5 separate regions of the Homo sapiens genome follow, and regions 2, 3, 4 and 5 are each linked to region 1. The links come from fine-mapping of genetic effects on gene expression. A gene starts in region 1. Each other region holds a variant in brackets. All regions are shown on one strand. Distances are from middle to middle.

Region 1 (5,108 bases):
GTCCAAGACTAATGGGGATTTTTGCTAAATAAGGCCTGATTCAGCCAAAAAAGATAGACTCTGAATACAGAAATCTGCATCACGCATCACTTCAAAAGATGTATTAAATCAAACACTGAAAGCATTGGCACACAGAATTTTCCTAATAGGGACATGATGAAAAGTCATTTATTAATTAAAATGCATTTATATTTTCTTTTTTTAAAATGAAGCAATGGGGGTATTCTACGCTACCATACATTTACAAAATTTCATTTGCAAAATTTCATCCTTCATACTTCCTTATTTAGCTAATTAAGGTAATGATTCTACTTAGATTGGAAAGTTCTAATTAAAATCATTAATTTTTCCCGAACCTTCTCCTTCAAGATCTAAGCTTTGCTGCACATCCTTCAGTCTTTGGGAGGAGAGAATGTTGGGGGATGTGCTGCTGATAATTGATGAGAGAGAGCAGGATACATTTATTATGACCTTCCTCCCGCTGCCCAGCTAAATTTATACAGCCAACCATAATCTAATAACTCTGTGTTCCTTTCTTTAAAGATTTTCCTATCATATGAAACTATTTCGGCCTGTGGTGTATTCTTTCTAATTAGAGTAGAATACTAAAGCAAAACCATTTCAATCCAAGTTGCATAAAAATGCCATCCCTTTCCGAGTGACTGGTTTTCAAAGCGAGCTCATTACCTGGAAAAACAACAACAACAAAAGTGTTGCCTCTCTGAATTCACGTGGTTTGGAAAATTCTTAGCCATCTACAGATGCACCAACTGAATCATAATAAAGAAGAGAAAATCTATAAATGATTAATTTCCTTTTTCTATTTAGGCTTAACATGTTTTAAGGGATAATTAAACTTTTGGCCTGTTTCTTAGAAGTCCAGGAGGAAGCATATTTCAGAAGAAGCTTATTGAACTGAGCGGTGAACTCATTCATTATCCTTTGGTTAATACAGAGTGAACTTGTCTACCCTCAGGTTCATTTAGCTTTAGGCTACAGCCTAGATTCTTAGACATCCGTCTATTTTACAGTATTAATTCAAGCTGTTTATAAATAACACATGACTAAATAGATGTTAAAGAAGACCTCCCTTGGGGCAGGCATTATTCCCACGTGCATGGCAACAGAGTTCGTAACAGGGCTTGGTGAACAGTATAATCTCAACACATTAACTGGGACCACATCGCCATTTGGCTATCAGAGCAGCCACACCGAGTGCATCATCTCTTGCACACCCTTTTAATTTAAGTACCTTGCTCAGTGCTAAGAAAAAAGGCACACTTGTTAAGGCAGGAGTAAGTGCGGATCTGCGAAACCTAAGCAAGCATATTTCACCAGCACCTCCTAGGGGCCACGTGTGGATATGAGGATGGGAGGTGGGGACTCGCACAGAACCTTTCCTTGAATTGTCAGTTTCACCTCTCCTACACACAAAAATCCACCCCGACTGCGCCGTCCACAATACCAGCTAGTTTGCTGAATTAGTTCAGCGACTCAAGGAGGCCTTACGAGGTTTAAATAAACTGCACAAAAGACACATTTGATCGCTCGAGAAAATAAACATTTAAAAAACTCAGTGGAAAGAAAGACTCCTAAAATATATCCTGTCCTTTAGGAGCAAAGCTTCGTTAGGACACCGAAGTACTCAGAAATAATAGGCACTTACTCTTCGGTTTACACACACACACACACACACACACACGGATTAGTTTATAAAGTTCCAGGATCCAGACCCGGTTAACACTGAAGTTGCTTTTTAGGGGTCTGCGCGCTCTCGCCTGGCTGCTGGGAAGGAGGGCTGGGAGGCGCTGAAGCGAGGGCAGATCTGAGTGTCTGTAGGAGTTGCTATTCCAAAAAAAATCATTACTCTCTAATTGTTCTGATTTTAGATCAGCAAAGCGTGCCGGGCGGTGGTGGAGAGACTGAGGGCGGACAAGGCGAGAGGGAACGAGCCGTCCACCCTTCGGAGAAGCCTAGGCGCCTTGTAAGTAATTCGCGAACAGTCGGGAGAACAAACAGCCAAGCGGCGCTGCAGTGGCCGCACTTGCGCGCGTCTCAATCCTGGGGGCTCTGCGCGCCCGCCCCAGTCCCTCGCCCCATTGACTCAGTGGCTTCTCCGGGCGCTGCAGCCTCCGCGGGGGGCTTCGAAGGGCCGAGGGGCTCCGGCAGAGAGGGAGTGGAGAGGGAGACGCGCCGGGACCGACGAACAATCCTGCCCCTGCGGCAAAGGTCTCTACCCGGCGCTGGCACCTCGCAGGCCCCTCGAGGAGCACGCAGGGCAAGCGGCCCAAGAGCGGGGGAACCGGGAAGTGTGTGGGGCTCCAGACGGAGTAGGAAGCTTTGCCCAAGGCCAGGCTGCAATCAGGCAGCCGCAACAGCCGGGCGCGGAGCTTCCCACCTGCTGCTGTCCCAGCTGGGCCGCAACTTCCTCCTCCCCGGCCCGGGCCCGACTCCCCGGCCGGGCTCCGAGGGTGGAGGGGGACGAGGCGGCGGCAGGTTCCCTCCGCTGGCAACGCCTCGCAGCATCCTCCCCTCCCCGCCGCGGTTCCCGGGGCCGGCCGCGCGGCCAGGCGCGCTGCGATTGGCCGGCAGCGGCCGGGGGCGGGGCCAGGAGAGCCGGTGTCGCACGGACCGCCTCAAAAGAGCCCAGGATATTGCAGAGCGCACTGGAGCCCTGGCCAGCGCGCAGCCTTCCCGGCGCCGGCGGGCTGGGTCTTGGGAATTCTGGTTTGCTTTGGCTCACTCGCTTTTTACAAACCACTGGATCTTACATGCCTCTGTACCCCCCACTTCCACTCCATGTCCCCATGCTCCTGCGCCAGCAACAGGTAAGGGCTGCTGTGTTTTCTTCCTTTTCGCTCGCTGCCGGTGTGTCCTGGGGAATGGACTCTGGCCGCCGTCCCCTACCCTACCCTGCCCCGCTGCTCCAGAGGTGCCCAGCTGTCACACTGCTGTAGCGCTCACCCACACTCCGGAGTCCCAGATCATGCCTATATAGTTTGTGTGCGCACCAGAACATCCCCAGAGCTAAAAATACTGAGACATGCTTGGAACAGTTGAGCAATAGAAACAGATTTCTCTGCAGCATCTGTTTGTGCTCATAACTTCCAATGCACCAGCTGTAGCGAGATACTGGGTTTGGAGGCAAGGGCGAGAGCGTCTGTGTTCGGTTCTCACTCTAAGTGGGGAAAAAAAGAAAGAAAACGTGGTTGCGGGTTTGGGGGTGCGTCTTGAGCCCTGGTCTTAAACCTTGGCAAAGCTTGGGACTCAGCACTATTCTTGATCCTTGGCTTTTTTTTTTTTTCGTCATTGCTTCAAGTATAGCTGTGAGTTTCAAACAGAGTGAGTGTCTCAAAGTTGCCTTCCTGAAAGAAGAGCGGGAGCCCGAGTTGGATTTGAGCCTGAGGATCGCAAAACTTTCACATTACATATCACTCTCCCCTAACCAATTTGTTATTTTCAGTAATAATGGTATTAATACCTGGCTTGAAGACAGTGTGGTTTTAGGAAAGCAAAATAGTCAAAACGACTTGATTCTGCAAAAAGATTGCATCATAGCGTGGATTCATCATGACAATTGGAAAAAAAATAGGGATAGGGAATGGGCAGTTTAATGTCTGTGTCTGGGTAAGGATATCATAGGATGATCACTAGGATAAAAGGCTGTGAATTCCGACGATTTTCATAAATTCAGATTTTACCTGTTAGGAAATAAGGTGTTATTTGAAAACCTCGGATATGCAAAGAAACCATATTGCGTTTTATCATTTGTTTTCTTTTCACATTAATAATCAATAGGCTGCCAGATTTCCTCTCGCCAACCAATGTTGTGTGTCTGCTGTACATTATCTGTACACTTGTTAGCGTTTTCCTGCTCACTTCCAAATGTTTCATTTCTATTTGCCATTATCTGGAAAAATCCTGGTGCTCAGAAGGGGTAAGAGATGTTAATTGAAGCATGGTGGAAAGGGTGAGGATAAGGTCAAGGCCATTTTACTTAGCTTCCTCCTCTCTCATATTTTAATGACACTTTATTTTTTAATGTTCTTGGTCTCCATAAGAAATATTTGATCTAAACTCATGTGAATTTTGCTTTTAAAAAAAATAAAAGAACACAGTCTTTCTACATCCTTTGGATTCCTGAGTTGTAGAATCTCTGGTTAGCTGTAGCGTCCTTGTATGACTTTTGCGTAGCCTGAAAGATTGAAAACAGCTACCTGCACAGATTAAGTGTTTCAGATTTTTTTAAGTGTATATTTTTATTTACCAAACATGTCTGTTTTTCAGCGTATGCAAATGCTGAGCAGTGCTACAAGCCAAGTGTCGTTGAGTATAAATGTTAGACAGGGGGCTCACACGTAGATAGATGGGTATCCCCCTCCCCTCCCCACTTCCCCCTCCTCCTCCCTCATGTTTATTGAGCTTCTAAGAGGCTGCTTTCCTAGCAGTTGTGCTCACATAGCAACATGTGCCCAGAGCACACTCAGGCTGTTCTATATGGCGTCAGCTGGGGAATAGCTGCTCTAAACACTCATTAGCAGACCTCTCTCTCAGCCCAGTACGTTTTCTTTTGCTATCTTTATTTCCTATCCTTAGAAACTTTCTTATTTATTGCACACCATGACCATATTACAGGACACATTTACTCTCATTTGATTTTTTTTTTTAGTTATTTATAAGCCATATTGGAAGTATTACCTATATAGTCAAAGCAATTTAGATCCCCCATTTGTACCATGTGATCTCCTTGACCTTACATTTATCCATAGCTCTTTCTCCTTTAACATCTACCTAAGTTTAAAACGCTGAACTATTTTTTTCCATTGCTTATGCTTAATTTTGGCTCAGCCTATAAATAGTCTTAACATGAACAGCACCACATGTAACCTCTCAATTTCCCAAAAATACTTTCTACATCATGGGTTATGGCCTGGATAAAAATGATTATTTGTGTCCATGAAATTTACATCTAGACCCTTAAATATTTTGGCTGGAAGGGAGATTTACACATTGTTCATCAAATCAAATTTCAATTCTCTGGATTTGTATCACTTAGTGTTCTCATCTACTCCTCATTGATTGCATCTCAAACATTATTTTGAATATAT
Region 2 (5,108 bases), 70 kb before region 1:
CATTGAAATTCTGCCAATACCTTTTATTCAACTTGTAAGCATGGAAAAGTATTATGAACTTATTTAATTTTTAATTTATTTAAAAATTTTTATAGTAACATTAGCACCTACCTTCTAAAGTTGTTTGAGAATTAAAGGATAATTTCTGTAAGACAATTACCAAAGTTCCAATATGTAATGCTTATTCAATAAATAATAACTATCATTATTATTACATCATAATAGGTGCCTATATTTCTAAATTAACAATCTTTTGTACTATTGATGTGACAATATGTACATTAAGTGGGGTGAAGAATTAAGTCATTCTCTTCATAATCAGGTGATAACAACCTTCTCCTTTATTGAGAATCAAGCATCTCAGAGCGAGCGTGAATGGATATTAGAGTTTCTGCCTCAGTGTTCTCAACAGCTTCTACTGGTAAAGCAAGTTACAGCTAGTAACTTGGTCAGGGTTTTTGGATATAAACTTTATTGTTTAGAGTGTAGACCAACCTACATTTAAAATATGATACTTCAGAAGTGCAGAAAGGTACGTGACACAGCCAACTGAAGAGGTAACATGTCCTAACATATTAAATTTTCTCTATTCTCTTTTGAACCCTATTACAATCAAAGAAATCTCCATGGTGAAATGCTCATTTTGCAGACACGATATTGTGTAAGTTTTATTTCATAATCACACAAAGGAAAAATTCCTGGGCATTTTATGTGCACTTTTGTTAATGTGATCACAGATACAGAGTTAGCCGTTCAACCCCAAACGAGACATGACCTCACTGGGAGGTTTGTTCGTTCACTGCATTACGGGGATCCACACAAAGGACATGTCAATGGCACAACCCATGCGCCCCCGTCTCCCCACTCTTGTCAGGATTTGTCCTGGGAAGTTTCTAGCAAACATTTTTGGAGCAAATATTTTGTGAGAATGTCACTGTTTTTGTTAGAAAGGCCATTTAGGGGTCTAACTAGGAACCAAGAATGGAATGAGTTACCTTATTAAAAATTTTAAATCAAAAAGTGTTTATATTGTTTGGTGAGTTTCAGTAGAAATTAGAGGAGGAGGTCAGGAGCAGGAGGATGGAGAAATAAGAGCTCCATCAGGAGCACCAGGAATGCTTTTTAAAAACATACATATTCTATTAGATTCTCAAGGAAATGTGACTAAGAACAGGCCCTCATCGCAGCCCCATATAGCATAGTTTTCAATTTTTCTACAGTGACTATTTCAAATATTTTCTGTTCTCTTCAAATCTCTACTCTTGTCTCCTTTACCCACTACCCCTATTTAACAGGGAAAATAAAATCACAAACTTCTTGTCTACCATCCATAGACCTGATTGCATCTGTATCCACTCTTTCCTTGCAAAGAACCTTGACTCTTTCCCATCCTTCTACTCTGCTCCTTCACCTCCATTTTCTTCTCTTTCCTTCATTATGGATTTCTAATTATTGTTGATTCTGACTTCCAAGTCCCTCTTGAATCTGTTTCCTAGGTTATGACCTCCTCCTCACTTGTCTGACCAATCTGTTCTCAACACTAGAGCCAGAATCTTAAATACAGATCTTCAGTGTTTTATCTTTATGCTAATCAGATTGTGTTAGTCTCCTGATCAAAGCTCTTTAATGCTTTCCTAGAATAATACAAATTCTTTAACATGAATTACCAGATGCTGCTTACCACTCCAGCTCTACCTCATACTTCTCCCCATTTTAGATCCCAGGATGCAGCCAAGTAATAATTTAAAAAAAATTTTCCTAGTAACTCTCATTCAGTGTGAACACAGTTTGTCTCAACGAGTTTGGTTCAGTATGAATAGAGTAAGGGTGTAAATTGCACCCTTGGGGAAATGTGACTCAACAAGTAACTACTGCAGAATGGATTCACTGGAGAACAAAAGCAAACATATTCGTGCTTTGAAGAATTTAGGAGTCAATCAAGTGTGGAAAAGGCTAAACATAAAAATAATTTTATTCATGAGTACAGTTCTAACTTGAATATTCATAACATTTTATTAATTTATCATAAGGACTTAAATGCTGAGTTATAGGAAAACAATTTAAAAATTTAAGATAAATCATTTTTGCCATATGCCTCTTAACAAGACAGCAGTTGAAATCTTCTTTCTTTTCCCTTTGATTAAAAAAAAAAAAAACCTTTATGGCCTAGTGGCATATAATAATTGTATTACGTGTGTGTGTGCATATAGATATTATTAAATTATAATGTACACTGATATACGGGCTTTCCCCAATTTTATTTCTAGCACTGTCATCGAAGATTAATTTTTTTCTGACTCAAATATTAGAAGCTAGAAGCTTTTTCTATGACTTTATGTATTTCCTCCACTCATAGTAGCTTTGAAGTTGAATTTTGAGTGGAATGGAACCTTTGAAGTAGAATTTTGAACAGAATCTGGACTGATATGGGGCTGGTCAAACGGCACCTCAATAATTATGAATTAAAATATATAACATTTTTTAAAGACATTCAAAGAACAACCAGGTGTTGAGCAAATTCTAAGTGCCTGAGCCAGCTCCCACTAGCTCACAAGAGCTAACTGTTTACACCTCTTATCAAATCCACATTCTGAAGCCTCATATCAGTGACCTGACATCAGCCATGCGTGGAGTATTTACACCACAGAAATGAAAAACTCTACAAATCAGTCCTTTGATTTCCTCCAGAGAGGCAGTTAAAATGCACCAGCACTCTGCTTCCTATGAATAAGTTGACCATATATCACAGCAGTATTGATTGATGCCAGTTGTACTTCTGACCCATGATTTTCACTTTTGTCCCCACCCTTTTCTCTGTCAAAAGTGACAGATTCAACAATCACTATAGATATCAAGGAAAATAATATAATGGAGATTTTTCACTGCAAGAAATGAAGACTGGGTTAGAAGGTAAAGAAGCAACTACAAAATGTTTATCTTTATGTGAAGAACAGGCTCCTGGAAGTAGTACGAGACTTGTTTTGCAGAGCTTCAGGGGACAGCATGAGGACAGGAAGATCTTGTGAAAGCTATAGGGAGACACATTTTTATCTGAGTTTAAGGAAGGACTTCCTCATGGGTAAGGTCTAGTCATCATAAAATAGGAA[T/C]AGAATGCATTTAGGGGTGAATGAGGTCTTAGTCCACGAAAACAGTCAAGTAGAGACGGACAGCCATCTTGAGGGGTGTTGTGGAGGAGCTGGGGCAATAAATGCTTGGGTGTTAATGCCTTTCTCATGATTCATATTGTGGGTTGAATCTTTCTCATGGCATTTCTTCACTCAGTCATTTTGGCAATCCTCAGAGGGTCTTTGCCTGGTGCTATGTGTGTTTGGGAGTAGATACAAGGAGAAGAAAAAAATAATTCGCTCAAATTCACACAAAAAAGTGACCCAAACCAAAATCCTTATTAAGCCTCACTGTTAAGTTTTAAAATGATATGATGATCACTAATTTGAGAGGAACTACATGTTAGCCAACCCATCACTGATTTATTTGTGATTTCAGATTTTGAAATCTATTAGGATAATCAATTTCACTTCAGCACGGTTTGGTCAAAGAAAGGAAAATACATCAGAGGGATTCAAATAACTTTAGAATCATAAGTAGTGTGAGAGATCTACAGGAGGAAAGTCCGTTTAGCAGTGAGAACTTCAGACACTTCCTCTATATCCTATGGTAACCAGGCAGTTAGAATAACAGGAAGCCCTCAGGCCGGCAAAAATGGCACCTGTGAAGTTTGTTTGGGTCTATCTGAAGGCAGGATTTCAGCAGGGGCTGAGGCTGTACAGAACAACTTAAAATTTTCAGTTGGATAAGAAAAATCGGTAAAACTTAAAAATTGTATTCATTTCCTAATGCCTACGTGGTATTACATATAAGTCAGACAATTGTTTTCTCTATTTCAAATTACTGGATTAGTTTGATTATTATACGGACTATCAGAAGAATAGTGGTACAGCTTTTCTCCAAGATCAACGCCTTTCATTTGTGGATCTTCCATCTTACCTGATACTTCTCTGCCCGTGTCTTCAGTACTGGAATTTACTCCAGTACTTCTTATTTTCTGTTTGTCTTTTCACCACCCGAAAAACATTACTCTCACTCACCAAACTATGTACACCTTTCTTTATATTCTCCCAATCAGACTTAACAAACACTTAGATGACATTTATTTTTGCCTGGTACTGTTTTAAGTGCTTTACAAATATGAATTCATTTACTTCTGCTAAGAGCTAATATATTTCTATTATCTTCCTTTTACAGAATGGGGGATTGAGGCACAGAGTGTTAAAATAGTGAGACACAGGATTCTAACTGGCAGACTGGCACTTTATCTCAATTCTTAACTGCTGTGTTGCCTCTCACTTTAAAGGTAAGAAATTAAACCAATTTTAACATGATTCTCCGAAAAACCAATACTTGCACTCCTTCCTCCATGAAAATGTGCTTTATCCCTACGCATTTTTCCAGAAGTCCAGCTTTCTACTTATACGTTTATATTTTCATAAACTTTGCTACAGAGCAAATTCGGTGTTACAAACATTGCTTCCTTTTGTTCACATTTTACACGTTTACTGCCTCCTTAAATCATTCACCTTCACTGTATTTTAGGAAAGAAATGCTATTTATATATTTTGTGAATCCACAGTCTATTATACATTCTGCTAACTAAGAATAAAACTTGTCTACTTGGTTATTTGAGTCTAGAGAATGATTTTCAACCTGGAGTGACTTTGCTCACCAAGGGACATCTGGCAATGTCTGGTCACATTTTTGGATGTCTCTACTGGGGTTTGGGGTCATACTGGCATCTAGTGGGAAGAGTTTAGGGATGCTGTTAAACTAAATGCCATAACCACAGGTCATCTTCCCACAACAAAGAATTTTCTGGCCCTAAATATTGAGGTTGAGAAACCCAGATCTAGGATATTCTGTGCATTTAAAATGATTCCGTTCAGAACAATTTAGGTACTTTCTCAATAGTACTGCAAAAGCTATATGAAAACTATATGTATATAAAAATTATATCTATCTGTCTCTAGCTACATTAACATATCAATCTGCTAGGTTAAGTAGACTCAATTTAACCATCTGGTGTTTCATGTTTG
Region 3 (5,108 bases), 360 kb after region 1:
AAATGCCTGCTTTTGATGTCTGAATCCCACCATTTGAAATGCATTCCTCTGGATTATTAAGATAATAGGTGAGTTTTTGAGATTTTTTTTTTTCCTCAATGGATCTGTCATTAGGGAAAAGTTTTCCACAGAAACAGATATACTTGATAGGAAGGAAAATACAGAAAGACATAATCCATAATCAGCAAGACTAGCACAAAACACACAGTTGAGGTAGGAGGTGGGGACTCGACTCTTGACCAGATTGAAGAATAGCTGAAACAAGGAAGAGGTGAAAGCATCTCTCCAGGAGACACATCCACCAGTGCCATCTCAGTTTTCCATTGTCATGGCAACACCCAGAGTTTACCACCCCTTTCCAAGCCAATGACCTGAAAAATACAAGCTTTTTCCTAGAAAAGTCTGAACAACCTGCCCCTTAATTTGCATGTAATTAAAAGTGAGCATAAATTTGACTGCAGAACTGCCCTTGAGCTGCTTCCCTGGGCACATGGGCTATGGTGTAGGCCTGCTCTGCTAGGAGCAGGACCTCTGCTGCTGCTGCGCACTGCTACTTCAATAAAAGTTGCTGTCTAGGCTGGGTGCGGTGGTGGCTCATGCTTGTAATCACCGCACTTTGGAAGGCCGAGGCAGGCGGATCACCTGAGGTCGGGAGTTTGAGACGAGCCTGACCAACATGGAGAAACCCCATCTTTACTAAAAAAATACAAAAAAATTTAGCCAGGCATGGTGGCACATGCCTGTAATCCCAACTACTTAGGAGGCTGAGGCAAGAGAATCATCACCTGAACCCAGGAGGCGGAGGTTGCAGTGAGTCACGATCATACCATTGCACTCCAGCCTGGACAACAAGAGCGAAACTCCGTCTCAAAAAAAAAAAAAAAAAAAAAAAAAGTTGCTGTCTAACACCACTGGATTGCCCTTGAATTCCTTCCTGGGCAGAGGCAAAATCCCTCCCATGCCGAGTCTCAATTTGGGGGTTCACTTGCCCTTCATCACCATCAGAGGGGCTCTGGTCAGGAAAAATGGCAAGCCGAGAACGTCAATAAAAAGGAGAGAAAAGGAAGATATTGCCAAGTGAATGACTCCATGATAAAATCTTAAGGCCAAGTGAAATTGTAAAAGGGTTTGCTGGAAGAAAAGATTTCAGAACATGAATTATATTAGCATGAGTCCTATCTATTGGTTGAATTAAAAGCAAGCAAGCAAGCAGTAAGTTTCTGGGAAGATGGTTGCAGCAGTGACACAGGTTTTGAATCCCTTTATAAAAATAGGTAGAACAGTAAGAGTAGGAAAACCAAAAAATCAATGATAAAATGATATCTGAGCAAAGACATAAAGATGAAGGGGTTACATAAAGATAAAGATGAATACTGGAGTAAAGAGTAATCCAGGCAGAGTGAAACAACACTTGCAGGAGGCCTGATGCCTGGAGAGAGTTTTGTGTGTCCCAGACCTTGAGGAATAGTGCAGCTAATGCAGAGGAAGTGAGGTTGGGAGGCAGGGGATGAGGTCATTTGTAGTAGGGAGGCCAACTCCTCCCTGGACTTTGCCTTGTATTCTGCATGCAGCGGGAAGCCATAGGGAAGTTTTGAACAAAAGACTAGTAAACTGTGCTTGACAATGATTCCTCTAGCTGTTGTAATATGATATATTTATATAAACGTAGAAAAAGGGTGAGATGGGCGAGGCATGGTGGCTCACGCCTGTATTCCCGCACTTTGAGAGGCCAATGCAAGAGGATCACCTCAGGTCAGGAGTTCAAGACCGGCCTGGCCAACATGGTGAAACCCCATCTCTGCTAAAAATACAAAAAATTAACTGGGCATGGTGGTACGCTCCTGTAGTCCCAACTGCTCTGGATGCTGAGGCACAATAATCGTTTGAACCCGGGAGGTGGAGGTTGCAGTGAACCGAGATCCCGCCACTGCACTCCAGCCTGGGTGACAGAGTGAGACTCCATCTCAAAAAAAAAAAAAAAAAAAGAAAAGAAAAAGGGTGAGTTGATACACACTAAATGAGTTGTAGTTTCAGGGGACAGAAAAAAGAAAATGTATGTTTTAGTTTTTATTTTTTCCCTTTTTTCCTGCAACTCTTGACTTATTTTACTTTTTTCAGTGAGAATGCATTACTATCCTAATAAGTACAGTGCAATGTATATGTCTTTTAACTTCCTGGGTTCCAGCTCACATGTGTTACATAAACCCTCCCCAGCTACCCTTTTAAGTAGTCACTTGGAAACTCTTTTGTGTTCTCACTTTACCTGGGTCAGGCTTCTTATTCTTGGATGGTGTCTGTTATTAAACAGGGTTTTCTCTTTCTAATCTAAATTCTCTTTTCCAGTAATTTCTCTCTCCTGGACACAGTGGCTCAAACCTATTATAGCCCTTTGGGAGGTCAAGATGGGAGGACTGGTTGAGTCCAGGAGTTCGAGATAAGCCTGGGCAACATGGCAAGATCTTGTCTCTACAAAATATAAAAAATAAGCTGGGCGTGGTGGTGTGTGCCGGTAGTCCCAGCTACTTAGGAGGATCACTTGAGTTTTGGAAGTTGAGACTGCAATGAGCTATATTTATGCCACTGCACTCCAGCCTGGGCAATAGAATGAAACCCTGTCTCAAAAAGAAAAAAAAACAAAAAACAAAAACAACAACAACAAAAAACACTTCTCTACAACTTATTCAGTTGTAATTATTAGGAAATACAGAAAACGAGCTTAATAATTTTCCTATAGGACATCTCATCAACTTGCTGTAGGGAAGTGCTAAAAAATGAAGAAG[T/C]CTAAAGATAATTTACAAATTTCACAACTTCACTAAAGGCTGACGCTGCATATCAGGCAGGGGTAAAGAGTGGCAGTAAGAGGAAGAAAGAAGCAATGAAGGAAGTACAGTGGGAACATGTACTTAACTTGGATATAAAAAGAAATTTGACATGTTAGGCAATCTTAAAAAATCACAGGTGATTGACACCGGAAGGTTATTGAGAAATGCAAGGTCCCAGTCTACCACTAATGGCAGCACCCATGAAGGACAATTGAGAAATTCAGTCTGGAGAGGGCTTAACGCCCTCTTACTGGTTTCAAAATGGTCTGCTTCTGTAACAAGAATTATTTTTAGAAATGTTATCTCATATTTTCCATTCTTTTATTATTTCTGTTCCTTCTAATTTTACACCTGACTGCTCTGAGTGGGTGTGTTTGTAGGAGGGGGTGGAAGATTAAAGAAGGAAATGCTAGTTTCAAAACACAAAGGACTAAAAATCTCTTAGACTCAAGTATTAGAAGCTAGCAATCTCTCTTTCCACTAAAACATTCTGCTACCATTAAGTGAACTGATGGGACTCTTACCACAAAAGGAAAACACTTAATAAATTGCAAACTATTACAGAAATTTTTTAATAAAGAGCTATAGCTTTTAAAAATAAATAACGGTTTATTGATAGTGCTTGCTGAGAACCTAGAAGGCATGGAAGATGGAGAAAAGAGGAGAATACCTTTTCTTTCCTTTTTCTCTTCTTCTCATAAATGTCAAGTGTGCCTCTCACTAAAGCAATAGTATCTCATCATCCTAAGAAATGCTTGTTATAATTTAAAACCTGACTAAGAAAACATTTATATTTTAGCTTATGTTACAAACAGGACTGGGAGTGTATAGAATAAAGAAATGCTTTTCTGTCCTTCAGAACTATCTCATGGAAAAACACGCAAATACAAAACCTATATTAAAATATGAACGGAACTAACAAGAAAATCACAAATGTTGATGGAAGGCAGAGTGATCAGAACAATGTCAGTGTGACTGAGATAGATACCGTAGGTAGGGAAAGTCTGTCAAAATTTAAAATAAATGCATTACTCAAGAATGATGAATTTTTGGCTTCTCCTAAAGTCACTTTTTTTCCTCAAGTAGAACTGAAACCCAGGAAAAATATCACAATTAAAAAGTCTCATAAGTTTTCTTAAGCAAAAATAATAACCACAACTACTACCTTAAAGTTTGTTAAGCTCTTTCTAATTTCCAGAAACAATGCTGAGTCTTTGATCTGCTTTTAGTGAATTGATTCGCTCAAAAAAACAATATAAAACAAGAACTGCTTGCCTCTACCTCCAAGTTTTACAAACGGCAATCTTCCAACTGGCTGTGTACATTCCTGTAGGTTTCTAACATGAGCTGTAGGGGTATGAGAAGAAAATAGGAAAGAGGTTCATTTCAATTTTTCTTTATTTCTTTCATTAAATTTTTGTGTATATGAGATATAATATGCATAACATAATAAGTGTATATAGTATGTAAATATAAGAATTTACATTCTTATATATTCTGTTGTGCTTGAAGTATGTAGTGGTAGGAATGTGCAATCCAAGAAGTTTTAAGAAGAACGTTTCAGCTATTAAGACATCTAGCTTCTGTAATTCAGACCACCTCCAAAGTTCCATATACAGATATCTTTCAAAAATTCACCATGTCTATTTTTTATTTTACACACATTTTTGTCAATTTTATTTAGTCAAATAAAAATTTCCTTATAAAATTGTATTTCCACTTCAATTTTAGAAAAATAATTAGTAACTCTGCTATTGTAGCTACTCAAATACTTGTAGATTTGTTCTAAATTGCGAGGGGAAAAAGGGACTACTGGAGGCAAAATGATGTTAGCAAGAAGTTTGAACTGATATGGATGAAAATATTTTTAAAAAACTTACAGAAACCAAATATTAAATCTTTAAAATATTCTATTTGGGGCCAATTAATATGTATCTCACTTTATTGCAGCACAATATATCAGGCAATAAACAAAATCAGGATCTTTCATAATGAAATGTCCCCTTTCTGCTCAGTATTTTCTGTTTAATAAAATAGTAAGCCAGGTGTTATGGCTTATGCTTATAATCCCAGCACTTTGGGAGTCTGAGGTTCGCAGATCCCTTGAGCTCAGGAGTTTGAGATCAGCCTGAGCAACACGGCAAAACTTCATCTCTACTACAAATATAAAAATTAGCCAGAGTGGTGGCACATGCCTGTAGTTCCAGCTACTCATTGAAGCTGAGGTGGGAGGAGGGCTTCAGCTTGGGAGGCGGAGGTTGCAGTGAGCTGTGATGGCACCACTGC
Region 4 (5,108 bases), 36 kb after region 1:
AGGAAGGTCTTAAGGGAGGTAGCGGAGGATAAGCAGAAAGTCAGCGATTCTCTTTGCAGTTCTCAAAATCAGACTAATGAAAATAAAACTAACAATAAAGTACTTATGGAGCACAGAACTTGTGATAGACCAGAGAGAGAAGATCAGAAAAACTAAGGTCATGCTCCCAGAGCAGAGAGAAGACAAAGATTATTTGAGAAAATGATCTGAGTAGGAAACCTTTTGTGGGAGAGGGCAAACTGACACTACCACAAAGCCTGATATTAACTAGGTGCTCAGTAAATATTCCTTGAATGATTGACAGAAGGGAAGAAAAAAGGAGGGAAGGAGGAGGGAGAGCAGGCAGTGACAAGCAAGTGGCTGTCCATCATTTACCCTTCCTTTTTACCGTGTTTACACTCTTGCCACATATAGATGCAGTCTGTTCCTTTTTTGGTTTTTCTACCAAACATCTAGAGTCCATGTGATATTCTGGGTGTATCTACATCTGGGCCAGAATAGTACATTGTGTTCTATCTTTAACTCACAGGACATACAGCAATAGTCTAAGTCTCCTGAAAAGCCCTAGAATAGTCAACAGATATAATTTCTCTTTCACACTTTTTTGAGCAATCATTAAAAATAACCGAAGCAAATCTAATTTCAGTGAAGGGGCTATCTTTGGATGCCATGAGAATGTGATAGGAGAATATGTATTTACATTTTAATTAGTGTCAAAATAAATATTTTTATTGGTGTCAAAGTTAGAAACACTTTAACTTTTAAACCCATGCATTCTAAAAGTGACATAGAGCTTACTAATACTTTATAGCGTTTCCTAAACTTCGTTTGGCTTAGTTTTCTCATGTGTAAAATGGTGATAATAGCATCCGCCACGCAGGGCTGGTATGTGGATACAAAGAAAAAATTTATACAAAGCATCTAATACAATGCTTGCTACATTGTAGGGGTTCTAATTTCTCCCATTTTAGACAACCCTAATTTATTAATATTTTCTGTGTCTGTCTTTCCCAGAATACAATGGAAGAGTATTTTTTAAACCACATTAAAGAAATTTGAAATCTACAAAATTTAGAAAGTAAAATCTAACATTTCTAAAATGTTTGAAATAATTCATTAAACGTCAAAACATAATACCGAAAAAGGAAGGGTCATCTATCTAGGTTGAAGTTTGAGGTTCCAGTTTGTTTTTTTATAGTTTTACCATAATTCGAACTTGAACTTTTTTTTCTCTGATGGAGAAATTCTCTGCAAACCTCCCCTGGACACAGAGACAATGCTGTAAGCAGTGAAGCCAGCTTCAAGATACCTGTACTTCAAAATGAAACAGTCTGCAACTTGCTTGTCAGTGGTTCATGGAACAGTTCTCAACCAGGACGTTACCATTCTCCAGGAAGTGTTTGGGGATATGTGAAGATGTTTTTGGAAGCCACAACCATGGAAGGTATTTCTAATATTTATTGCCAGGGAGCCAGGGATGGTATACTCCTGCATCCATTGCCATGGAGCCTGTAAATGGAAAAGCATCCCATCCAATTCGCACACCCATGCATTCAAAAATATTACTATACTCACATATGCCTATGCATATGTGTAGTCATATTTTTAAATATTTATATATGTGTGCAAAACAAAAACAATATCTATTTCAAGATGTTAATATAAATAAACATGCAGAATGATTGATGCCCTTCTTAACAGCTGAGGGTCTTAGGAATTAATCTTGTCTTGCTGAACGTTGATTCTCAAATAAATTGTTCTGCAAAAATGCATCACCTTAGGAGTAGTATGACATGCCCTGCCATGCCAACTCCTATTAAATATTTAGACTGGCAAAAAATATCTAAGAGTCATGTAATTTGCTTTTTTTTTTTTTTTTAACAACAACAAAAGAAAACCCTCAAGTTTTAAAATTCTCTCTCGAAGAAGCCATTGTCAGAGGCCACTTTGGGTTGGGTAGGTAGTAAATCTGTGTGTGAGCCTACATGCCATGCATCTTCTTTAGGAATGGATGCTTTTTAAGGAAAGATTTTTGTAGGTGGTTCTTTTTTGTTCTGACATTGCATTTATATTCGGCTCCACCCCCACGGTCTTTCATTTAGTGGCACTTGCAGAAAGCCAACTCCTAAAAAGATGTATTTTTCCTTGTCCTGTACTGGGGTGGAAACTCTTCTTATTTATATACACTGTCATAAACAGATGCTATAGAAACATAAACTCTTTTTTTTTTTTTTTTTTTGGTAGCACCTTGTCTTTTTTCCTAACCTCATGCAGACATGAAGGAAACTATATCCTGGGAAAATGGAAGATGGCAACACATTAGTGAAAATGTCATTGGAAAGGTGCACTGCCCCAGAGCTATGTTGCTGAAATTTCTAAGCCTTTCTTTAATAGCCTTCTTGGGTCCCTAAGCAGGGAGGTTTTGGATGAATTCTCCCCAGCCGTGGTATGCCATTGTCTGATTCTTCCAGCCAAAATTTACAACAACAAATAAAAAACAGTGGATCCTTACGAGAAATTTTTTCCTGGGAAAGCCATATATTGTGGAAAGGGGGAAGAAATTGTAACATGGACCAAACTCTTTCAGGTCATTCAGAGTATCTATTGTAGCAACTGAAAAGCTCCAAACCAGTCAAAAAGGTGTTTTTAGGTCAGACATACATTATCAAACATTCGCCTACATATTATTAGTTTATTTATGAGAAACAAATATAAAGATGCTTGCATGTATTTCTAGCAGTATCCATATAATTGAATGCTTTACTTTTTAGCAAAAGGACTGTCTTTAAATTGAGTATGAGCCTACCTTCCCCAGAGTCAAATTCTTTATTAGACATATCACAGTATTTTCATACTCATATTCTAAGGCAGATATGGAGTTCCCGAGATCACAGAATGTCAGAATTTACTCAAACATCTGCCCATGCCCCTGGGCGAAGTTACATCAACGATCAGAAATTATGTTC[C/T]ATGTTTCTTTCTCTTTCTGTTCTACCCTGTTTTCATATTCAGTTACACTTCCTGGTTCTATTGAATACTGGAAGTGCCAAAATGTGGCAAGAAAGACAAGTTCTAGCCTTACCAGAAACAAGAAGTATTTAGAGGTAAGACTCGTATTGTGAAATTTCTAATCCAGTTGCACAAATTTAAAAGTTTCTAATTTAAACTTCCCCTACATAATCTCATGTGGGAAAAACCTGTGCTTTTGATGTAATTTAATGAAGAGAGGTTAACTGGAAAGAGGCATTAGGAAAAACATGGAGGACCCACCCAAGGGTAACTGGGGGTACCTCAGGGGCCTGCCATCTCCTGCTTTGTTCTAGTCACACGTCTCAGAATATGTCTGGCATTCTGGGCTCAACAATGTGACTTATGTGACTTATTTCTTTGTTTTGTTTTGTTTGAGATGGAATGTCACTGTGTCACCCAGGATGGAGTGCAGTGGCACGATCTTGGCTCACTGCAATCTCTGCCTCCCAGGTTCAAGCGATTCTCCTGCCTCAGCCTCCTAGGTAGCTGGGATTACAGGCATGCACCACCATTCCCGGCTAATTTTTGTATTTTTGATAGAGACAGGGTTTCACCATGTTGGCCAGGCTGGTCTCAAACTCCTAACCTCAAGTGATCTGCCCGCCTTGGCCTCCCAAAGTGCTGGCATTACAGGCTTGAGCCACTGCGCCTGGCCTCATGTGACTTATTTCTCAAATGTTAAATGAAGTATAATATCTATTTTTATAAACAAATATTTATAGGTATATCAACTTTTTCCCTCAGATTATACATATCATTTTAAAACTATGGTATTCCAAAACCTACAGAAGTCATGGGCTTACCACAGTTTCCAATTTGGTAGCAAACGAGACTCTTTGAACTGTGAGCATAAGGGTTTGTTTTTGTTGTTGTTTTGTTTTTGAGACAGGATCTCACTCTGTTGCCCAGGCTGGAGTACAGTGGCACGATCATGACTCACTGCAGCCTTAACCTCCCAGGCTCAAGTGATCCTCCCAACTCAGCCTCCATGGTAGCTAGGACTACAGGCACACACTACCATGCCTGGCTCATGTTTTGTATTTTCATGGACACGAGATTTCGCCATGTTGCTCAGGCTGGTCTCAAACTCCTGGGCTCAAGCGATCCACCTACCTTGGCCTCCCAAAGTGCTTGGATTCAGGAGTGAGCCACTGTGGCTGGTCCTATAAGGGTTTATTTATTGCAATAAAAAATGAACGTGTCATATTTTGCCTGTAAAGAAGTTTGCATTAAAGAAAGAGGAAGTATCATCTTCCAGCAGTGAAGTATTAAGATTTAAAGCAATATTACTACTTTTCACCTTCTTATCCAAACCAAACCAGATCCAGATCCTGTGAATTAAAATGACCAGAATATTAGCACCCTTAATTATAGCAATCTGTTCCTCTCTTTTTGTTTTCCATGGATTCTGTCCAACCCAGGAATATTATGTTTGCATTATTGCTATAGAATTTGCATCAAAGGCATGGCTTGATTTTTCTTTTTTATGTTCTCTGGAAATCTCAAGCCCCAATGACTAAAATCCTGAAAGGTTTTAAGTTTTTCCGCTAGTTAATACAGTAAGAAATTAGTTGCATCTACATATTTAGATTATTGTAGGAAGTCATACACAATTTTCACTTTGCAAAACATGATTGTGTAGACAGAACCTCATGTTCCAAGTAACTGTTTGTCGTTAGGTAGCTAGTATCATCTGTTCATCTAGCACTCTTGGCCTTTTTTACTCTTTAAACACAGAGCTTCCAAGAAGAGTTATAGGGCAGAGCTACAATGCAGTTATTTATTCCAGCCCTCTCACAAGACAACTATATTTAGGATATGATTTCACCAGTCTTAGACTCTGTACTTTGTAGTCTGGTACATAAACACAATTCAAATGTCCTCACAATTCTTCATATGAGCAAAAAGAGAAAACAGATCTGAGTTAGTTCTATAATTAAAATTATTAAAATATAATATCAGATACAATATATTATGTGTGAGTGTGTGTTTGTGTGAGATTCTTCTAAAAATATAGCAAAATGTTGACAGTGCTAATCTCTGGAAAAAGGGGTCATGAATAATTCTATGCTCTTCATTAA
Region 5 (5,108 bases), 130 kb after region 1:
TAACATGTATGTCTATTACAGTGTTACTACCACCAAGTCCTAATTATGCAACTTTATACTAAGCCTTGAAATAGGCATTGGGTTTCCTCCAACTTTTTTTAAAATGTTTTTTTCAAAATGGTTTTGCTTATTCTAGGTCGTTTGTATTTCCACATGATTTTTTTGAATCAGCTTGTCAATTGTCACAAGAAGCCTGGAAGGGCTTTTCAAAGTATTAGGTTCAATCTGTAGATTGAAATGGGGAGAAATGGCATCTTAATCATACAGAGACTTCTTTCTGATCAATGAATATGTGATTATTTTTTCATATATGTACCTTTTTAACAATTAGCTCTTCGCACCGATGTTTTGTAGTTTTGGCATTTAAATCTTGCACATCTCTTGTCAAACTTATTTTTAATTATTTCCTGAGTTTGAGGCTATTGTAATTGTTGATGCTGTTCTGGGTTCCATTTTAAGTGTTTATGGTGATATATAGAAATGTAGCATATTATCTTTCATCCTTAAACATTGTTAACCTCACTTCTTAGTCCTGGTAGCTCTCTTGTAAATTCTTTGTTGTTTTCCTATGTAAATGATAATGTGTTCTGTGAACAAAGTGGTTTACTTCTTCTTTTCCAATCTATTGCCTTTACTTATCCTCTTTGTTTTATTGCAGTGACAGAACCTCCAGTACAATGTTAAATAAAAATGGGCAGAGTAAACATCCCTGGCTTTTTCCCCATTGTAGGAGGATTGTATTCAGTCATTCACATTAAGTATGAGGTTCCTTGTAGGTTTTTCATAGATGTCCTTAATTAAGTTCAGGAATTTCAGTCTGTTTCTAGTCTGCTGAAAGTTTTTTAATAAGTAGACATTGAATTTTGTTAAGTATTATTTTGCACGTATCGATGTAGTTTTTCTTTTTACTTTGCTTACACTGTCTAGTGCACTGATTCCTCTCATTAATATTAAACCAACTTTGCATTCCTGAGATCAATGCCAGTATGTTCTGTTATCTTTTTATATTTATTGGTGGATTCAATTTGCTAAAATTATATATGAAAATATTTCTATCTTCAGGGAAAACATTGGCTTATGTTTTGTTTTCATAATGTCATTGATTGGTTTTCTTAACAGGGGAATGCTGGCCTCATAAAATAAGTTGGAGAGTGTTTCTTCCTGTTTTTTTTTTTGTGTGTGTGTGTGTCTATATGATTGGTCTGATTACTATTGCATTTCCTTAAATGTTTTGCTAAAATTTACCAGTGTAACCATCTGGGCCTAGAGCTTTCTGTGTGGGAAAATTTTAAATTTTAAATTTAATTTATTTAATGGGGACAATTTCTTCTTGAGTGAGATTTGATAGTAGCATAATTCAAATGCTTCATTCATTTCATATGTTATCAGATTTCTTGACACAAACATTTTTTGTAATGTCACCTTATCGACATTTTAAAATAAGATCTGTAGCAATATGCAGTCTTTCAGCACTCATATTTGTAAATTATTATACTTCTTGATCAGTATGGATAGAGGTGTATCATTTGATTTTTTTCAAACAGCTTTTGGTTTTATTGTTTTTTATTCCTTGTGTGTTTTCTCTTTCTTTGATTTTTTTTTCTATTAATGTTAGTATTCTTTTTTCTGCTTACTTTGTGTTTAATTTGCTCTTCTTTTTTCAGTTTCTAAGAGGTAAGCCTAGATCATTGACTTGAATCTTTATGTTTTAGTAGAAGCATTTATTGCTGTAAATACCCTTCTAAGTATCACTTTGATTGCATCCCACAAATGTTGATATTTTGTTCAATTTTCATTCAACTAACTGTTTCCTAAATTTTCTTGTGATTTCTTCTTTGACCCATGTATCATTACAGTTTGGTAGTTTAATATACAAAATGTTAGTATTTTCCAAATATCTTTCTCATTTATTTCTAGCTTGATTCCCATGTAGTTCAGAGAACATATTTTGTATAGTCTTAATTCTTGTACATTTTAAAGCTTTGTTTTGAGGCACAGAATATGTTTTGCCTTGGTAAATAGTATGCTCTTAATAATAATGTCCATTGTACTATTGCTGGGTGCAGTGCTTTTCTATAAACCTCAATTAGGTCAAGATGGTTGATAGCGTGGTTTAGATCTTCTCTTTCCTTATTAATTTATTATATTCTTGCTCTATCAATTTCTGAGAGAGGTGTGGTGAAGTCTCCAACTATAGTTGTGGATTTGTCTCTTTCTCCTTTTTTAGTTTTACCTGTGTTTGCTTTATATATTTTGAAGTTCTGGGATTAAGTACCCACATATTTAGGAATATTATCTCTTACTCATTTTTTCACCCATTTATCATTATGCATGGTTCCTTCTTCATGATTATTTTTAATAAACTTTATTTTTTAAATCAGCTTTAGGTTCACAGCGAAATTGAACAGAAAGTACAGACAGTTCCCATGTACCCTTTGTTCCCACACATACAACAGTCTCTCCTACTGTCAATGTCTCACACCACAATGGTACATTTGATATGTACTGAACCTTTTAAATTTTGTAACAGTTTGAAGTCTGCTTTTCTGATCTCATAGAGCTACTTTAGCTTTCCTTTGCTTAGAA[C/T]TTGCATGATCTTTTTTCATCTGTTTACTTTTAAACAATTTATGTGACTGTCTTATTGACAGCATAATAAGTCTTTGTTTTTCCCATCTGACAATCTCTGTTTTCTAATTGGAGTGTATATATATTGAGTATTTAATGTAATTGTTGATATAATATTTGAATCTACTATCTTGCTACTGATTTGTTGTCTTATGTCTTTTTGTTCCATTTTTTCCATATTATTTTGCATTAAGAATTTTTATAATTTTCTTAATTTTCATTATTGGCTTATTTATTTCTTCTTTTTATGTATTTTCCAGTTGCTGTATTATTTAAAATATAGATCTTTAACTTGTTATTTATTTTCTAATATCATCCCATTTATCATAAAACAAAAAACCTTAAAAGATTTTCATTTTCTCCCTCCCATCCCTCATGCTATTGGCATCATAACTACTAAAAATGGGATAAGCTCCACAACATATTGTAGTTTTTATTTAGAAATCCAATTTTTCTTTAAGGAGTACATAAATAGTAAACAAACAATACCATGCTTTTGGTTTTAAAAAATCCTCTTTTAAAAAATTATTTCTGATATTCTTCCTTTTGAATAGGTCAAAATTTTCATCTGATTCTATAATCTTCTGCTAGTGTAACATTCATTGACCTTTTTATAATACAGGAATCTACCAATATAATCTTACAGTCTTTGTGTATCTGAAAAAATTAAAAGGTTTACAGACCCTCCAGTTTTGGAAGATATTTTCACTGTGATTAACTATTATGGATTGAAATTTCCCCCCAATTTTAAAGATGTTGTTCCATCTTTAAACTGGCTTATACAGTTTCTGAAAGAAATCTGTTACTATTCTTATCTTTGCTTTTCTATATGTAATGATTCTTTAGTCTTGTTTTGTCATAAGATTCCCTCTTTATACTTAGTTTTGCGCGCTCTGGCTATGAAGTGTCTGCATCTTTTTTTAAAAACCGCTTGGAGTTCTCTGAAATTTATCAATCTGTGGTTTAATTTTTTTCCCTTAAAATTAGGAAATTCATTGTCTTTCTCTCTCCAAATATCTTTTCTTTTATTGGGACTGATATTGTGTATATGTTGAACTCCTTAATCTTTCCTATAGCTCTCTATTTTTTTCTGTTTGGATAATATATGTGACCAATCTTCAAGTTCTTTGACTCCTTGATCATCATCACATCTGCTGATAAACTCATGGAACACGTCTTTATTTCTGATGTTAGGCTGTTTATTTTCCCCTTAGCATTTCCATTTTATTTTATTTGTAATACTTTCCCATCTGTTCATACATGTTGTTCACGTTTCCCATTAGATATGTTAACATACATCAGCCTAATAATATCTAAATCTCATTTTGTTGACTGCTTTATCTCCGTACTGTTTTTTTTTTTTTTTCTTTCTTCCTGTCTTTTACCTTTGATTAGGACTGTGGGCAGCAGGGATTTCTATCCTTGGTAGCATATGTCCTTCTATAGCAGATGGCTCTTGTTTTGCTCCTCTTTCAGAGGTGGTGGGTTTTTCTCTGAGCCTTGGGGACAGGAAGATTGCCTACCCTACCACAATGACAAGACATTCACTTTGTAGGAGAGGTTTCAAGGAAGTGGGATTTCAAGGGTGAGGTTTCATGCTGAGTGCCACTGAGGAGGGCTCTCCTCTCTTAGGTCTCCTGCCCTGCCCCTAATCTTTCCCAAGAGCACAGTAGAAGAGTCTCATGAAAAGGAAATCGGGAGTGTGGACTCCCTGCAAGCCTGGGGCTCCTAGCTATTCTAACTATCGTGTTGGCTTTTTGAGCTCACTAAAGATCTGGCTGTTTTCTTCTTACCTGCTATTATGGGGGCTCCTTCTCCCTCTCATACTGTGCTCAACTGCTCTTTTGTTCCATCTCTCCTCAGAGGGGCTGTTAGCTGCTACACTTTGGAATTCAATTCACCTGGTTGCTGTGCAACTTCTGGTCTCTAATAAACTCAAAAAAAGGTTATGATTTATAAATTATCTGGCCTTTGTTTTTCTCCTTCTTAGGGTGGAAGCAACATTTTCTTACAGATTTGGCCATCCTAAGTGGAGGAGGAGTATCAGGTTTTGGTATCCATTTTACAGCTTGAATATTATAAGTTCTGTCAAACTAGTTAGAGTTCTCATTTATGTCTTTTTTTTAAATTTCAAGTTTAAACTTTCTATCACATTGTGAGGAAAAAAAGTATTTTTTATGGTTACGTTTTAAATTATTACATTATAATCTTTGATGCAGCTAGATTTCTTTTTCCTAATGATAAATTAATGGCTTCAACATCATTTACTAAAGTATATCAGTTTACTCAATAATTCAGATCATAGAATTTAGCATATATTAAATTCCTACATGTATTTCTTCCTGTATTTATATTTCTAGGCCATAAGACTTTTGGCAGACGCTACTTTTTTTTTGAGTCTTGATCAACCATGTAAATAATTTTGGCTACCCTGCTAGAGAGACCAGATGGAGAGTGTGACATTCTGAAGGGTGAAAGTCCAC

Which allele goes with the higher level. Alleles are on the strand shown, and positions count from the first base shown. SD is a standard deviation of normalised expression in the study named. Not every link is listed here.
For the expression in monocytes after R848 of the gene that starts at base 2,659 in region 1, allele C in region 5 goes with a higher level than allele T (small effect, 0.38 SD a copy in Quach 2016).

The links. PIP is the estimated chance that this variant, and not a neighbour inherited with it, causes the effect.
Region 2: its variant is fine-mapped to the expression of KCNJ2 in whole blood (TOPMed, PIP above 0.99).
Region 3: its variant is fine-mapped to the expression of KCNJ2 in blood mononuclear cells (TOPMed, PIP above 0.99).
Region 4: its variant is fine-mapped to the expression of KCNJ2 in whole blood (INTERVAL, PIP above 0.99).
Region 5: its variant is fine-mapped to the expression of KCNJ2 in monocytes after R848 (Quach 2016, PIP 0.95).

Annotation. Positions count from the first base shown.
Region 1 is chr17:70,166,874-70,171,981 of GRCh38, forward strand. KCNJ2 (potassium inwardly rectifying channel subfamily J member 2) reads left to right here and starts at 2,659. Exons shown (of 2, transcript NM_000891.3): 1 at 2,659-2,828. It overlaps KCNJ2-AS1 (KCNJ2 antisense RNA 1), which reads right to left and starts at 2,529. Exons shown (of 1, transcript NR_036534.1): 1 at 88-2,529. RefSeq lists a silencer at 2,255-2,714.
Region 2 is chr17:70,096,395-70,101,502 of GRCh38, forward strand. KCNJ16 (potassium inwardly rectifying channel subfamily J member 16) reads left to right here. Exons shown (of 4, transcript NM_170741.4): 2 at 4,264-4,372. Among named protein-coding and RNA genes, the nearest start is that of KCNJ16, 24 kb to the left of the region's middle. The variant T/C (reference allele first, on the strand shown) is at 3,108.
Region 3 is chr17:70,524,641-70,529,748 of GRCh38, forward strand. No RefSeq gene overlaps it. Among named protein-coding and RNA genes, the nearest start is that of KCNJ2, 360 kb to the left of the region's middle. The variant T/C (reference allele first, on the strand shown) is at 2,781.
Region 4 is chr17:70,202,571-70,207,678 of GRCh38, forward strand. No RefSeq gene overlaps it. Among named protein-coding and RNA genes, the nearest start is that of KCNJ2, 36 kb to the left of the region's middle. The variant C/T (reference allele first, on the strand shown) is at 2,967.
Region 5 is chr17:70,299,969-70,305,076 of GRCh38, forward strand. No RefSeq gene overlaps it. Among named protein-coding and RNA genes, the nearest start is that of KCNJ2, 130 kb to the left of the region's middle. The variant C/T (reference allele first, on the strand shown) is at 2,587.